2 linked regions of the Homo sapiens genome follow. The protein of the gene in region 1 purifies or fractionates together with the protein of each later gene. This does not show direct contact. Each region holds a gene or a part of one and is shown on either strand. Other genes may lie near its edges.

Region 1 (3,749 bases):
TCTGTCACCCAGGCTGGAGTCTGGAGTGCAGTGGCATGATCTCGGCTCAAGCAATTCTCCCACCTCAGCTTCCAGAGTAGCTGGGACCACAGGGGCACACCACCACACTTGGCTAATTTTTGTGTTTTTAGTAGAGAGGGGTTTCTCCATGTTGCCCAGGCTGGTCTCAAACTCCTGACCTCAAGGGATCTGCCCACCTCAGCCTCCCAAAGTGCTGGGATTACAGGCATGAGCTACTGTGCCCGGCCATTTACTATAACTTAATGCCAAATTTACCTAAAGAAGTTCAATTTAATTCCATTAAATCTTTAAAATGTCTGCAACGATAAAGAAAAGCAAGTACTCATGCATTCTAAGTCTCATGTGGACCTTCTGATCTTGCCTTCATAAATTAGGACCTGTGTGTTTTCCAAGTTTTCTGTTTGATATAATGCATCTCACTGCCTAACAGTCCTCTATCCTAGGAACTAACCATTACTGTCTCCTACTGCAAGAAAAGCACTGAGCTTCATTTTTAAAAAGTTCCCACCAGGACTGGCTCACACCTGTAATCCTAGAGCTTTGGGAGCCTGAGGCAGGAGGGTTGTTTGAGGCCAGGAGTTCCAGTGACCAACCTGGGCAACATGGTGAGAACCTGCTTCTACATAAAATGTTTAAAAAAATTAGCCGGGTGTGGTGGCATGCACCTGTAGTCTCAGCTACTCAGGAGGCTGAGGTGGGAGGATTGCTTAAGCCCAGGAATTCCAGGCTACAGTGAGCCATGAAGGCCCCACTGCCTTTCAGTCTTGGGTGACAGAGCAAGGCCCTGCCTCAGAGAAAATAAAATAAAATTTAAAAATTCCCTCTCCCTATCCTCAGAAATGTCAAATAGCAACAGCATTTCTATCTTTATGAGATGAGTAAACCACCTGGTAACAAAAGAGGGTATAATTCCACACTTCACACATGCTATGAGGACACCATGTTCATAACAAATAACAGATTTCAAATGAAAATTAAGGCTATATATTTCATAATAAAAGTTCTTTTTTTTTTTTTTTTGAGATGGAGTCTCGCTGTGTTGCCAGGCTGGAGTGCAGTGGCACAGTCTCAGCTCACTGCAACCTCTGACTCCCTGGTTCAAGCAATTCTCCTGCCTCAGCCTCCTGAGTAGCTGGGATTACAGGCATGCACCACCACGCCCAGCTAATTTTTGTATTTTTAGTAGAGACGGGGTTTCACCATGTTGGCCAGGATGGTCTCGATCTCCTGACCTCGTGATCTGCCCACCTCAGCATTCCAAAGTGCTGGGATTATAGGCGTGAGCCACCGCACCCGGCCAAGAAAAGCTTTAAGACATTAAGGTGATCCAAATTTTAGTGGTCAGAACACACATCAACCTTACAAAAATGAGAGAATATATTTGATTCTAAAATCAAACTTCATATATTCTTTCTGCTGTCATTTTTGTCCCTCAAGCACCCAAGTAGCTGAGAGAAAATTGGACATACCAGAGGACTGTATCATCAACGCAAGTCTCTTGAGATGCCTTGTTGATCGGTAGATCAAGTTATAGCCTCGGTTTCTGATTTTGCTGTGGTGATACTGGATGTAGCATTCAAGGAGTAAATGGAGAATCCACAAAATAACTTTCCCAAGGATTATAACCGTCTGAACTTTCAATGGGTTTGTGTAATTTCCTGGGCACTTGTCCTCATTTGGATTAGGATAAGAACAAAGCACACCTGTTAAAAATGCTAAAACAACAAACACGAGCTGGGGGAAAGGAGAGCAGAAAGATTAATATTCAATATTTGTAATTAGGAAGCAATAACTACCATCCCAGCATACATTCTTTTTTTTTTTTTTTTTTTTTCTGAGACAGAGTCTCACTCTGTCGCCCAGGCTGGAGTGCAGTGGCGCAATCTCGGCTTACTGCAAGCTCCACCTCCCGGGTTCACGCCATTCTCCTGCCTCAGCCTCCCGAGTAGCTGGGACTACAGGCACCCGCCACCACGCCTGGCTAACTTTTTGCATTTTTAGTAGAGACGGGGTTTCACCATGTTAGCCAGGATGATATCGATCTCCTGACCTCATGATCCACCCACCTCAGCCTCCCAAAGTGCTGGAATTACAGGTGTGAGCCACCGCACCCGGCTTCCCAGCATACATTCTTATACCTACAGCTTCCCCTGTCCTATTTTTATAAATGAGTTTTTAAATGTATTTTCGTTTTGTTTTGTTTAAATGTATTTTTGTTTTCTGTGTGAGATACGGTCTTGCCCTGTTGCCCAGGCTGGAGTGCAGTGGTGCCATCTCTGCTCACTGCAGCCTCAACCTCCTGGGCTCAAGCGATCCTCCTACCTCAGTCTCTGGAGTAGCTGGAACTACAGGCCTGTGCCACCATGCCTGGCCAATTTTAAGAAGTTTTTATAGAGACAGGTTCTTGCTATGGCACCCAGGCTGGTACAGAGTATGTTACACAAAAAGTAAAAGGAAAGAAGAAAAAGAGGTCACCATCTGGAAACCACAAGGCCACCCCTGCACATGGTGGTACCAAGAAGAAAGCGCTTCAGCTGGGATCTGGGGATCAGGAAGCCATGGTGGAGCCATACCACAGCTACTAGTTCCCTCAAGGAAAGGGGATACCACCTCTCTCCCCAGTGATTCAGTTCTGAACTCAAGTCTCCCACAGTGCACTTCACTGGAGAGGAATCCCAGCTGCAGGGGAAGCCAGGAAATGTGCTGAGGGATACGGTCCCTGCAGACAGGCAAACCTATCAGTAGGAGGCTGAGCAGAGGCTGAGCAAGTCAATCAACTCCATTCACAGTCCTCGTAAATACTCAAGGAGTGGTGAGAATGAGCCCTCTTGATTTTTCACATTGCAGCAGAGAACAACTATAACCCCTAGTGCTTCCAACTGCAATCGTCGAAAGGGAGGAACTGATTAAACAGACTGGCAGTGGAGTCACCACCAGTGAGGCCTGCGATAAGACCTTTTGCACATGTGTTTTTATAAACTCCAGATAGTTGTAATTTTGTCATCATACAAAAATTGTACATATTATTCCACTGCAACTTGATTTGTCTGCTAAACATTATTCCCTAGGTATAAGTAAATTGATAAATTCCTGTGTCAACATATGTAGACTTTTCTGCATCTTTTTTGTAACTGAAAAAGTAATACAAGCACATGGTTAAAAAATCAAGTAGTATTCAAAAGTAAACAGTAAATTATATTAGTGTCTCTTCCACCAAGACCCTCAGTCCTCATTTCAGAGGCAACTAGGTCTGTGAATGCTTCTAGAAATATTCTATTATATACAGGAAAACAGGTCCACAACAGCCCTCTCAACTCCCTTTTAAAAACTGCAGATAGGAACATTCTGTACACAAGGTTGAAAACTTGATTTTTTTTCACTCGACAATGTAATCATGAAGGCTATTCTATGTTAATATACTGTATACCTATCCACCCCATTCTTAACAGTTGCATAGCATTTCCTTATATGAATGGGACACACAGTGTCTTCTGGATGCCAAGTAGCCAGGTAGTTTGTAGTCTCTTGATATGACAGACAACATGGCTATTATCAACAATATCTTTACATGTGTGCAAATATATCCACAATGAATTATTTGAAGATATAAGTAAAAGTGTACGTACTTTTTTTTTTTTTTTTTTGCCCATGACACAGCACTCAGGATGTCCTAAGAACATGTGCCCTACATTTTAAATGTTGATAGATACAGCACAACTGCCCTCTGA
Region 2 (3,749 bases), on another chromosome or scaffold:
AACAAAAGGTGATCAAGGAAGAAAAGGATTTATATTGTTCAGGGGAAAGAGGAGTGTCTCTTCTTTCCCTGAATTAGAGGAGGTTCTCACCTTGATCAAACCCTACTCAGGCTCCTCTGGGCCTTCTTTTTGACTAGGCCTCAACTTTGGCCTGTTAAGAACTGCAGACTTGTTCAGCACAAGTTCAACAAAATTCAACACAAATTATTTTTGTTGACTCCTCCAACCCCCACAGTAAAAAACCTGAACAAAAACAGCAAAGTTCTAATATCTCAAGGATGCATCCCTAGAATGGTGACTCTAGCCCCCTTAAGCTCCTGCCTGGGAAAAGTCAAGGCTGCCAAAAGAATTTCCCATTTGTTCTAGCCAACACCTGATGACAGGGCTCCCATCTCCCAGTCTCTGTGGGAAGGTAGGAGCCTAACTTTTAGCAAACCCAGAAGGGCTTCATGTGAATCAACCTCCACTTCTGCTTTTCGTACATTTCCACTTCCCTTACTCTGCTCAAGCCCTCACAGTTCCCCTTCCTATTCCCTCACTCTCCTTTTAAAATGCCCAGCCACCTCTGCACAAATTGAAGTGGCGTTCAGTTCAGGTTGCACCCTCTTCCCCGCTGCAATAGTTTATCACTGATAAAAAATCTGTCCTTACTTGGTCGGGCACGGTGGCTCACACCTGTAATCCCAGCATTTTGGGAGGCTGAGGTGGGCGGATCATGAGGTCAGGAGTTCAAGACCAGCCTGGCTAAGATGGTGAAACCCCATCTCTACTAAAAAATACAAAAATTAGCTGGGCATGGTGGCGGGCACCTGTAATCCCAGCTACTCGGGAGACTGAGGCAGGAGAACTGCTTGAACCCAGGAGGTTGAGTTTGCAGTGAGCCAAGATCACACCACTGCACTCTAGCCTGGGTGACAGAGCAAGACTCTGCCTCAAAAAAAAAAAGAAAAAAAAAATCTGTCCTTACCACTTTAACTAGTTCGGCTTTATCTCTGACAGGTGGATGGGAGGACCCAGAAGAAAGGTTCTTCATCATAATCACAAAAGCTACCAGTTTCTGAGCTAGGCACTAGACTAAGCAACATTGGGTACTTCTTCACAATCATTTTAATACTATAAAAGCAGGTATTCAGCCGGGCGTGGTGGCTCATGCCTGTAATCCCAGCATTTTGGGAGGCCAAGGCAGGTGAATTGCTTGAGGTCAGCAGTTCAAGACCAGCCTGACCAACATGGTGAAACCCCATCTCTACTAAAAATACAAAAATTAGCCAGGTGTGTTGACACGTGCCTGTAATCCCAGCTACTTGGGAGGCTGAAGCAGGAGAATTGCTTGAACCTGGGAGGCAGAGGTTGCAGTGAGCTGAGATTGCGCCACTGCACTCCAGCCTGGGTGACAGAGCGAGACTCCATCTCAAAAAAAAAAAAAAAAAAAAAAACCAGGTACTCTTGTGATTTCTACTTTACAGGTAAAGAAACCAAGAGGTAACTAACTTGCTCAAAGTTGCACAGGTATTAGAAGTTGAGATATGAACTCTGGTTTGTCTGATGCTAGTGTCTAAGCAGTGCTATCTCCCAGAATGCAGCTCCACCCTCATGGCAAGAGCAAGGTGGGAGTAAAAGCTGGTCAAGGAGAGAGAGTGAGAGCAGAGCAATCAAAGACCCATGGTGTGCCAGCTGCCAAACTGCCCATACTCACCATCAGGAATCCCTGACAGTCCTGGACTTGATTGTGGCTTAGGTTCAAGAAACGCAGAGCTGACAAGAGGCGCTGAGAGAGACGGGGAGGAGGCAGAGAATCGATGTTCACTACAATACTATCTGGTCAACCAGCTGGCCCTCCTCCCCAAAGGCCTGGCCTTGCCCTTCCTCGAAACCCTCTTCCCTCTGAGGCACTCACCAGGGAGCTGTCTAAGGCGGTCAGTGCATTGTAGCTGAAGTTGGCAGAAAGCAGAGCCAGCCAAGGGAGGGCAGAGCAGAAGTCGCCGCCGCAGGCTGAGAGGAGCTCCTGAGCAGACAGATGGGTGCTTCATTACCCCACCCTCCCCTTCCTCCCTATGCCAAGGCCAAGCTCTACCACCCAGTCACTCATTCATTTTTTATACACTGAACTCCATCTGAAGATACAGGCTTAAAGCCCAGGTCCCTGACCCAAGAACTCACTGTAGGGACAGTGGGAAGGTAGACACTAGAATATGTAATATAATATGGTAGGTACGACTATAAATATACAGGCAGTTACAGAGTGCTGCGGGAACACAGAGAGGGAGTGAGGACACTGTCTAGAGGGAAGCAGGAGGCAGGGAGAGCTGCAGAGAGGGGAGAACATCAGAGCTTGGTCTTCTACATCTCTCAAGTTGAGGTGTCTGAGCTCACCCCTCACTCTCCTTACCTCTAATGCCTGGAGGCTCCTGCTGCAAATCAGGGTCTCCAGCTGGGAGTAGATGCCTCGGAGGCCATGCAGACAGTGGAGGGGAACACCTCGGAGCTGGGACAAGGAAAGAGGAGGGAGGAAGGCAGAACCCCACAGAAGACAAAGACCTCATCCCCATCCCCTAGTTGGGAGGAGGGAGAAGACCACAAAGCCCAGCTATGATTTAGGGAAGCAGTAAATGGAAAGACAGTGGATATCACATGACTGCAGAGCAATGGGTATACTCAGGCCTGGCCTCCTCACCAAAGAGGCTCTTCTCTTTCCCATCCCCAAGGGGCTGCCTCAAGTTGGGTGCTGTGCACCAACATCCCCCCGTGTCCCCATACCTCCAGGTGCCGAAGGGATTTGAAGGGGAAAATCTTGATGGGCCCTGTGGGGCCAGGACCAGCAACATGGACCAGCTGAAAAAAAAAAAAAAACTCAATTTACTGAGGCACAGCAGATCTTCCTGCCCTCAACATTCCTTCCTTAGCACAACCACTGGTACCTCTGACACCCTCTGGATCCTGGCACTGCAGACTTCTGCACCCCTACCCTATCCCCAACTTCCATCATTCTCTTGGGCTCCTTGCACATCCTGCCTCTTCCCCACACCCAGAACCTTGAGTGAAAGTGTTTTCTGCAGCACATCGAAGAGAAACTGAAGCTGAAGAATAACAGGGGAGTCGGCAGGATGGGAGGGCAGAGCCACAAAGCCTGTCTGGCCAGGGCCCCATGGCCCCAGGTGCAGCTCAAATACGTGGTTCAGCTGTTGCAGTGTGGGAGTCAGCAGGCTCAGGGTGCTACAGCCAGACAGGACCACATCCCCTGCAGAAAAAGGGGCAAACAGGAGGGAAGACACAGTGAAAAGATTTTTCTCTTTATTCTAAGGCTCTATGATGCCAAAATATACCCACTCCAATCCATATTGTAGATCTTCTATTGCAGGATCAAATTTTCTATCTCCTTCTCAGCTCAAAAGCATTCAATGGCTCCCCTCATCTTCAAAAAAAGTCCTAACATTTCATTCAGCCTGATGAGACTGCTTGGCTACACAACTCCAACCAACTCTTCCAAATTTTCTTTCACCTTCTGCTCAAAAGAGCCTCATCTACTGACAGTGCTGGAAATACAGCCAGCTTGGTTCACAGTTCTCTCTTGTTATGAGACACCCCCTTCCACCGCCCAGCTTGAGACCAGCCTCCTCCAGGAAGCCGCCTCAAGAAGTAATACTGCTGAATTTTCATATTGCAGTCACTCATTATTACACAAAAGTTAATTGGAAGTTTTATCTTTCTTTCTTTTTCTGATTGCAAAGCACATCTGTAGAAACTTTCAA

What was found. The genes of interacting proteins can lie anywhere in the genome.
Region 2: the proteins of TMEM192 (region 1) and STK11IP purify together in Homo sapiens (affinity purification with mass spectrometry; 2 studies listed by BioGRID and IntAct, with this or other methods). This does not show direct contact.

What each region holds. Positions count from the first base shown.
Region 1 is NC_000004.12:165,099,138-165,102,886, forward strand, and holds part of TMEM192 (transmembrane protein 192), read right to left. Parts: intron 1,756-3,749; coding exon 1,491-1,755; intron 1-1,490.
Region 2 is NC_000002.12:219,600,724-219,604,472, reverse strand, and holds part of STK11IP (serine/threonine-protein kinase 11-interacting protein), read right to left. Parts: intron 3,239-3,749; coding exon 3,033-3,238; intron 2,833-3,032; coding exon 2,758-2,832; intron 2,486-2,757; coding exon 2,390-2,485; intron 2,006-2,389; coding exon 1,898-2,005; intron 1,769-1,897; coding exon 1,697-1,768; intron 1-1,696. UniProt on the Homo sapiens protein: May regulate STK11/LKB1 function by controlling its subcellular localization.